Linked DNA regions of Homo sapiens: region 1 is linked to region 2. The links come from fine-mapping of genetic effects on gene expression. A gene starts in region 2. The other region holds a variant in brackets. All regions are shown on one strand. Distances are between the middles of the regions.

Evidence for each region. PIP is the estimated chance that this variant, and not a neighbour inherited with it, causes the effect.
Region 1: its variant is the best candidate, but not a certain one, in a credible set for the expression of UPP1 in whole blood (INTERVAL, PIP 0.58).

The regions. Positions count from the first base shown.
Region 1 is chr7:48,045,855-48,050,238 of GRCh38, reverse strand. C7orf57 (chromosome 7 open reading frame 57) reads right to left here. Exons shown (of 9, transcript NM_001100159.3): 5 at 3,623-3,779; 6 at 262-359. Among named protein-coding and RNA genes, the nearest start is that of C7orf57, 13 kb to the right of the region's middle. RefSeq lists enhancers at 46-546, 682-1,881. The variant A/G (reference allele first, on the strand shown) is at 1,809.
Region 2 is chr7:48,086,616-48,090,999 of GRCh38, reverse strand. It overlaps UPP1 (uridine phosphorylase 1), which reads right to left and starts at 1,735. Exons shown (of 9, transcript NM_003364.4): 1 at 1,582-1,735; 2 at 636-812. RefSeq lists silencers at 1,171-1,360, 1,701-2,040 and enhancers at 1,141-1,670, 2,181-2,390, 2,203-2,732.

The DNA.
Region 1 (4,384 bases), 41 kb after region 2:
TGATGGAGAAGCAGAGCCTCCACACTGCCAACCTGCAGCAAGCATGACCTGGAAGGGCAGATGTGTTCAACAGGGGCAAAATGACATTAGGAAGGAACAGAAACCACAGTGAGGAGGCGACAGGCACAGCCAGGCCAGGCCACAGACAGGGCTTCGGGAAGTTGTGTGGATGCTGTCACTAGCGCAGTCATCACCGGATGAAAGACGGAAGGCCAAACCCAAACCCAGTCCAGACAGTGAGGGCGTAGCTCAAGCACTTACACGGGGGGGAAGGAGAGTCTACTTCCTGCAGGATTCTTAGGGCCAAGTGGGGTGCCTGCTTTGCTCAGATACTTTGAGTCAATGGCCGGTAGCCTCAGCTGTGTGAGGAAACACACAAAACCTTGAGTTAGTGGAAAGCATTCAACAGCTAGAGAAGAAAACTCACTAATGGTAGCAAAGATACAAAGCTTATAGGCTGGACTTTCAATGTGGTCATTGTAAATGCTCACAATAAAATATAATTCAGCAATAATCTCATTCAACAAAATAGTTATGTAAAAGGGACTATCACTAACTCAAAAGCAGTTGCTATATTTGAGTAAAGATGCCATCTGCTCAGGAGGAAAAACAATGAACTAAGAGCCTCGTCCTGAAGGAACTTCCCACACCCAGATGAAAACATATGTTCACAAAAGCACCTGTACGCTTTTGTAATAATCACCCAGAACTGGAAACAACCCAGATGTCCACCAACAAACGAATGGATAAACAAATTGTATCATGATCAGCCAATGAAACTCAGCAACAGAAACAAATGAACTACTGACACTCAGAACAGCATGGCCATGCGTATGTAATGTAGATGCATAATGTAAATGCATTACACCACATGGGAGAAGCCAAGCAGGAAAGACGCCATGCCGTATGATTCCATTGATTTCACATTCTGGAAAAGGAAGTGTAAGAATTAAAGAAAGAGGAAAGAAACACGAAATGCGGCGTGGCAGTCAAAGACAGGTTTTCTTTAGTTAAAACCTGAGAGGCACTCCTGGCTGATTGTGGTCAGGAGCACTTTCTCTTACAGACTAAAAGTATATATCAGTTTTGGGGTGAGGGGGCTTATCAGAAGCTTGGAATGTTTATGTGTGTGGAGAAGTTCATGGCTGGGTTGGAATCTCTCTGGGAGGAGGGGAGGTTATCTTGGTGCAGACATCTTTCAGCCCGGAGGGGGGTTAACTCGGGCCTGGCATCTTCCTGGCTGGAGAGAGCTTATTTAGGGGCTACCATGTCTCTGGTCAGGGAGGAGTTTGGAATGTTTCTGGTTGGAGATGTTACCTATGGTTCATGGTCGTGTTGACCTTAGCCATTAGGCTGATGCCCCTTGGATTTAGGCGGTTTTTTTTAAGGTGAACTTTTAGAATGAGAGGCTTGTCCAAGATGGCGATGTTCCTGCACTGTCCAGAAGAACTATAAAGACTGAAAACAGATCAGGGCTTGCAAGGGGCAGGGGAGAGGCTGACTATAAAGAGGGGTAGAAATGCTGGGGGCAACAGAACTGCTATATGTTCCTTGACAGCTGTGGTGGTACACAAGGGACGCCTTAGTCAAAACCTGGGGAGCAGTTCTCTATAAAAGGTGGGTTTCGCTCTACCTAAATTGTTTCTTATTAAAAGAAATAGAAATACATGCTATGGGAAAACGGGAAAAAACAAAACGAAGCAAACAAAATCCACGGAGGTATTGCTAACAATTATAGGAAGAAAAGATGGCTTTTCAAAAAAAAGAAACAAGATCCCCCGATCACCCTGTAGGTGAGCAAGACCCCC[A/G]TGAATGCTGGTAACCAACAGGCAATACATGTGCCCTAAGTCTTGTCAGGTGTCCACCATGTGTCCCGTGTGAGGCCAGGGCACAGCTGAGGAAGCGCTTTGTCAGCTGGCCCACGCCCATGATGTGATCATCACTCATAGGTGACCTTCATACCAAAGCGGTGATGGTGTTGTCTTATTAGGGAAATCAGAGCCCATCCCGATGCGGTGCTCATCCCCTGCACCTTACCCGACACCATGTCCCTCTACCTGTTAAATACTCAGCATGTGTGTCTTTAACCACCACCCCTTGTCATCCTATCTCCTTCCCCATAGTGAAGGGCTGGCTTCAGGAACTTTGTGTAGCCCCTAGCACACCTTTTGTAAATGGGTACTAACTTAAAAACCCCACTTGATTTGAGAGTGATACAGCATTTAGCATTTTAAGATTTCTGTAGAAATGAGCTGTAGCCACGGTTAATATCCAAAGGTTCATTTATCACTAGAGGTTGTAGCTCAGTGTAATTGGTCACTTGTGCAACACTAAGAGATAAATCTAATTCTTAACATGGTCCATTTTGGCTGAGTGTCTACGGTAGTATGCACCTGTAGACCTAGCTACTCGGGAGGCTGTGGCAGGAGGAGCCCTTGAGCCCAGGAGTTCGAGGGTGTAGTGAACTATGATAATGCCGCTGCACTCCAGCCTGGGTGACAGAGCGAGAACTTCTCTCTAATTAAAAAAATAAAATAAAAAACAAAAACAAAAAAACAACAATAAAAGGTCTAATGCCTTTGCACGGATCATGGAAACAACCCAAAATCTGAATCACAGCCGGACATGGAGATCTTAAAGAAAAAGCATGTGGCCCATTGCAGCCAGTTGACATTCCACTTGGTGTTCAGCTACTCAAGTCCCCAAAATAAACTGAGGGGTTTCCCTTCAAACCAAGATGCTAAGGCAACAGCCTAGGAATCAGGCATAAATAGTTCACAACAACTTCCACGTACGCTGAGACACATCCAGTCTCTTCATTGTTCAAAATGATCACCCATCAGGTGACAACGGTGTTCACTCTTATTCTCAGTATCAAACACTATTGTTATTTGTAATATGAACTTCACCGTTTCACTCACAAACCCTGAAGTTGCAAGAACTGAGACTAATCTGAGACCTGGTGCTGATGCCCCGGGCAACACTGAGCCCTTGGTGGAGCTGAAGGCCTGGCTCTTGTTCCTTCCAGCACCAAGGAAAGGGGATAGAAGGTCCTCCTGTCAAGACTTCCCAACAACAGAGCTGGCAATTCAAGATTGCTTCCAACTTTCTCCATTGCATTCTTAAAATACACATCCTCTGAGAAGGCTTCACTGCACAGCCAGTCACTCCTTTGTGATCAAATACACCACCAGGACTTCATACAGAAGAGAATTCATCTTCTCTTCCTTTATTATCAACAAAGAGTGTCCCAGAAAACTCTTAATACTTAAATAAATGAAAATATTCAGAAATGGGATGACTAAATATAAAATTCCTTTTCTATATTGGCCTGATAAGAAGTGCTATGCCAGTTTTCCTCTAGATAAGCATTAACTATCTATAAATCATTTAGCAAAAAGAAATCTTACCTCTTAAAGTCATTATTCATAAAAAGAAAAAGAAAGACCATAGTATGGTGCCTGCTTGCCTTTTAGTAGATCCAAACTTAAAATACAGAGCACGTGGCCGATGCCACGAGCAACATAAGACGCCACCAGCAGCTAACATCACAGCACTTAATTACTCGAGACCACAGAAGCAAAGCGGATGCGGATGCCGTCTATTTATGGGCTCCCGTCACCTTTTTTTTCTCCTTTTCAAGTTCCTCAGCCTCTCTTTGCCAAACTGTTTTCATGTCGAAGTCGAAGGGCCCTCTTCTGGATGCATAGCTACCATTGGCTTGATCGGGGTTAAATTCTTCATGAACCATGTAATCCGGCATGGAGACAGCCCGCACTCTGCAAGGACAGACACCAGTTACAGCCTGGTGCTCAGAGCCATTTCCACTCCCTCCCTTCCTTCCATCTCCATCGCTGGCTCTCCCTTTCCCTCCCTCCTTCTGTCTCCCTCCTTCTCTCACTGTCTCCCTCCTTTCCTTTCTCCTCTCTCTCTCCCTCTCTCTCCCTCTCCTGCTCTCTCTCTTTCTCTCTTTTCCTCTTCCTCTTCTTTCCCTCTCTTTCTCTTTCTCTCCCTCCCTTATTCTCTTCTCTTCCGTCTCTCTTGACATCAGCACTACCCATTCTCCTTGAAAACACAGACGGGCCCTTCCCTCCTGTGCCTGCTAAACAACACACCAACCCCTCCAGGCCCTGCGTCCCAGGATCAGGAGGCCCACTTAGAAATCACAAGGTCTCAACGTTAGTAAAACGAGATATACTAAAATATGAATTTATAAAACGTACCTTATAAAATAATTATTTCTTTTAGGATAGCATCTACCACTTTGACCCCTTAAAATAGCTAAACACCCCTAAACATTTACCATTTAACATGTTCATTTAAAATAATAATAACATGCTCTGTTTCCTGTTGGATGGTCATTTTTAATGTGAGTATTTAAACT
Region 2 (4,384 bases):
AAGATCAGTAAAGTCAACAAAATTCCACTTTGACAAAAAGCCCATGTAAAGAAACACTAATTTATCCTTCTTAAATGAAACATGAATGCCCACCAGTGCTGAAAGTATTGGAACCAAGAATATAATTTGTGCTCGATACACCTGTGCTGAATTAAAACGGTCTGCGGTGATGAGGTTTAATGCAGAGGACTAGAAGGTCAGGGTAGCCTCTGAAAAAAGAAATAATGTAAGAGCAGCTGAGAAATGGGGAAAGCTTGGGCCAAAATGCAGATGGGCAAACAAACTGAAAGGCGGGAGAGACAAAGGCCTGCCCTGGGAATGGCTCAGCAGCGCTTGTAGAAATCCAGAGTAAGACATTCTTTCTATTCAAGGAAGTCACAAAGTTTTTTAAAGACCCGCGGTTACAGCCAATGAATGGAACCAATGGTCTTTTTAACCAGAAGACCCCAGGAAGGCAGAAAATGAGCCAAAGAAAGGCCAGGCAGGGGACAGTGGGGAAAGGAAACAGGGATGGAGAAGCAGAGAGGGAAGTGCAGAGACAGGTCACCCAGGCGCCTGGAAACTGCCTCTATGGCCTTCACGGGAAACGGCCTCTTTCTACTCCGGATCCCAGACTGTGTTTCTTTGAAACTGACCGTCAGAGGAGAGCGGCTGGAGGCGGACAGACGTCTGCAGTGGGAGGCGCTCCAGGCGTTCCAGGCAGTGTCCTGCCGGCGAGTCACCCGCGACCGCGAGTCACCTCACCAAGCCCTGAATTGGGACAGGAGACGAGACGTGTCGACGAGCTGCGGAGTTCCTCGCTTCTCTGGGCCCTGCCAGGTCCAAGAACAGGTTGCCATATAAAAGAATCGTGAAGGGACCCCCTTCCCCATGCAAATTATGTCATATAACGCATATGCCTGTGAAGTTTCTCTGCGGAGCTGCCAGATAACTCGATGACAATATTTTATGCGGTAACATTTTGTTAAATGTTGACTCGATGGCCACTTGACGCCATCTGAACTCTGAAAGCTCGCGTAACAATCATCCTCCAAATGAAATTTTACCCCCTTCTCCCTTTAAAAGGCGGTGGGGACAAAACATCACTTCGTCACTTAAGTCACCATCTCCTTCCTCTTATCTGGGGCTCCCAGCATAGTTCTAGGGGTTCCCGCACTCCCCGCCCGGGTTTGGGCTGCGAGAAGCGCCCGCCTGCGCCCTGCGGGACCTGACCCTGCCGGCTCTGGCTTCACCCTCGCTGCGCCTCGGCCCGGTGGGCTCCCCGCCCAGAGCCCCGCGCGCTCCGTCGCCGGGACGTGGGAGAGGTAGGCACGGGGTGGACCCGAGGAAGCACATCCCGCCCGCGCGCTTCCCCCACGCCCACCTCGCTCCGCACACACCAGCCCCAGAACCTCCCGGCCGCGCGCCCGCCTCCCCGCGCAGCCGCGCCGGGCCGCTCTCTGCTCCTCTGCAGCTCACAGCCAAGGTGCACCAGAGCCTCCGTCACCGCCCCTACAGGTAAATGGGCACGTGGCCAAGGCAGGGGACGGGCTAGACCCCTGGGAAGAGAGAACGGCGGGAGCCGGGCCGCGGGCGACTCACCACTCGGCCTGCGCAGAGAGCCGCTACACCCGCGGCGCCATCCTCGCACTGCGACACCGGCGACAAACGCAATGCTCCAGGGCCGGACGAAGGGACGGCTCTCGGGAGGCTCGCAGACGGCGGGGCGCGGGTCTGTGCGCCGGAGCACTCGAATGAGGGAACCACCTGCGAGGTGAATCTCATATGGAGTCTGCGAGCGGCCCCGCCCTGCCCGGGGGTTACCGCTAGGCTCGGGCCCCGCCTGCCCTGGGCCGGCGAACTCAGCTGACCGCATCCTGGGCCATCCCGCAGACAAGCCCCGCCCGCCCCCACCTTCCTCTGCCCCTCTGGCCCCGCCTCCCCCGCCTTCCTCCTCTCCACCCTCCCGCGAAGGTCCCGGGAGGCTCAGCCCGCAATTGCTTCTCGCCTCTGCAGAGCAGCTGGGCAATTGTAAAGAACCAGCAGCCAGTTCTGTTACTCATTAAACAGCCCCTACTACAGAGGAAATCTTCTTACCCACGTGGTCCTAACCTGGGGCGGAGGAAACCGGGCTAGAAGCGGCTCTAGGACTAACCCAAGGTCACGCCGCCAGGCAGGATCCCCGGTCTGTCTGTCTGGCGGTGGCCCCGCGGCTGGGGCCAGCGGAGAGAAATGACAGCGTGGAACCAGCCCTGGCCCGGTGGTCGGGAATGTGGAGCTGGCACTGTCACTGTGTGTACCCTGGATCTCTCTGGACGGCCTCGGCTTCCCCCCTGGGGAGTTTCTCTGGGACCTTCCTGATCCTGGGAGTTCCCGCTTGCTGGGGCAAAGCCAGGAGCTCGCCCGAGGAGGGGAAGTGACTCATTCACTTCGAGTCGCAGCTAAGTGGCCGAACTGCCTCAAACCGGCGCTGCACTCTGACCCCCAGGGGCCGGACCTGCCTGCCCCCGGCCGGTGCCCACTCTCCGTCTCAGGCGTCTTTCCTGGTCCTCTCCCTGCTTCCCGAACGCGCACTCTGGTGAGAGCACAGAGCCTGGGAAAGAAGACGACCTAGAGGCCCGGGCAGCCCAGCACCTCTGTTACTTGCTTCCTAAAGGGAACTCCAGTTCCTGAGAAAACATGGGGTTGGGCCGGGAGTGGTGGCTCACGCCTGTAATCCCAGCACTTTGGAAGGCCGAGGCGGATGGATCACCTGAGGTCAGGAGTTCGAGACCAGCCTGCCCAACATGGTGAAACCCCGTCACTACTAAAAATACAAAAAATTAGCTGGACGTGGTGTCGCGTGCCTGTAATCCCAGGTACTAGGCAGGCCGAGGCAGGAGAATTGCTTGAACCCAGCGAAGGATGCAGTGAGCCGAGATCGCGCCATTGCACTCCATACTGGGTGACAAGAGTGAAACACACAAACAAATCAAGGAAGGAATTAAGGGTTTTATTGAAAATGAAAGTACGGCCAGGCGCAGTGGCTCACACCTGTAATCCCAGCACTTTGGGAGGCCGAGGCGGGTGGATTACAAAGTCAGGAGTTCAAGACCAGCCTAACCAAGATGGTGAAACCCCGTCTCTACTAAAAGTAAAAAAAAAAAAAAAACAAAAAAAAAAACCTAGCCGGTCACAGTGGCAGGTGCCTGTAATTCCAGCTACTTGGGAGGCTGAGGCAGGAGAACCACTTGAACCTGGGTGGCAGAGGTTGCAGTGAGCTGAGATCATGCCACTGCATTCCAGCCTTGGTGACACAGTGAGACGCCATCTCAAAAAAAAAAGGTAAATGAAAGTACACTCCACAGTGTGGGAGCGGGCCTGAGCGTAGGGGCTCAAAGGCCCCATTCCAGAATTTTGGGGAGTTTCAATGTCCTCCGCTTGGGGCACACACTATGTAAATGAAAGGGATGATGCAAAGTTACAAAGTCATTTACTTGGCCTACGCAGAGGCTATTTCCTGTCATAGCTAAAGTGTGAATCGGCCTTATGTTCCCTGCCTCCAGACCCTATTTTGCTGCCTCAGACTGAAGACTGAAACTGGCCTGGTTAGGAAGTTGCTATTCTCTCTCTCTGAAGGTAGATTAACAACTTAGTTTTAGTTTTGTTACCGGAAAAGGGTCCCAATCCAGACCCCAAGAGAATGTTCTTGGATCTTGTGCAAGAAAGAATTCGGGGCCAGGGTGAGTCCACAGAGTAAAGTGAAAGAAGCAAGCTTATTGAGAAAGTAAAGGAATAAAAGAATGGCAATTCCATGGGCAGGGCAGCCTCTAGGGCTGCTGGTTGGCTATTTTTATGGTTATTTCTTGATCATATACTAAATAAGGGTGGATTATTCATGAGTTTTCTAGGAATTCTTCCTTTTAGAACATATAGGGTAACTTCTAAATGTTGCCATGGTATTTATAAACTGTCATGGTGCTGGTAGGAGTGTCGTTTAGCATGAGAATGCATTGTAATTAGCGAATAATGAGCAATGAGGAAGACCAGAGGTAGTTTTCCTCACCTTGCTGGTTTTTGGCAGGTTTTGGCCAGTTTTGGCTGGCTTCTTTACTGCATCCTGTTTCATCAGCAAGGTCTTTGTAACCTGTATCTTGTGATACCACCTGCCAACCTTCTATTTCATCCTGTGACTAAGGATGCCTAACCTCCTGGGAATGCACTCCAGCAGATCTCAGCCTCATTTTACCCAGCTCCTATTCAAGATGAAGAGTCTCTGAGTCGACTCCTGCTGACATATTTCCTGACTCTACAACCCTTAGGATTAAGGGTTCCCTTGTAAAAGGGAAGGGGGAATAACCAAATAACTCACCCCTTTCTTGGAAAACTCAGGAATAATCCACCCCTTGCTTAGCACATATTCAAG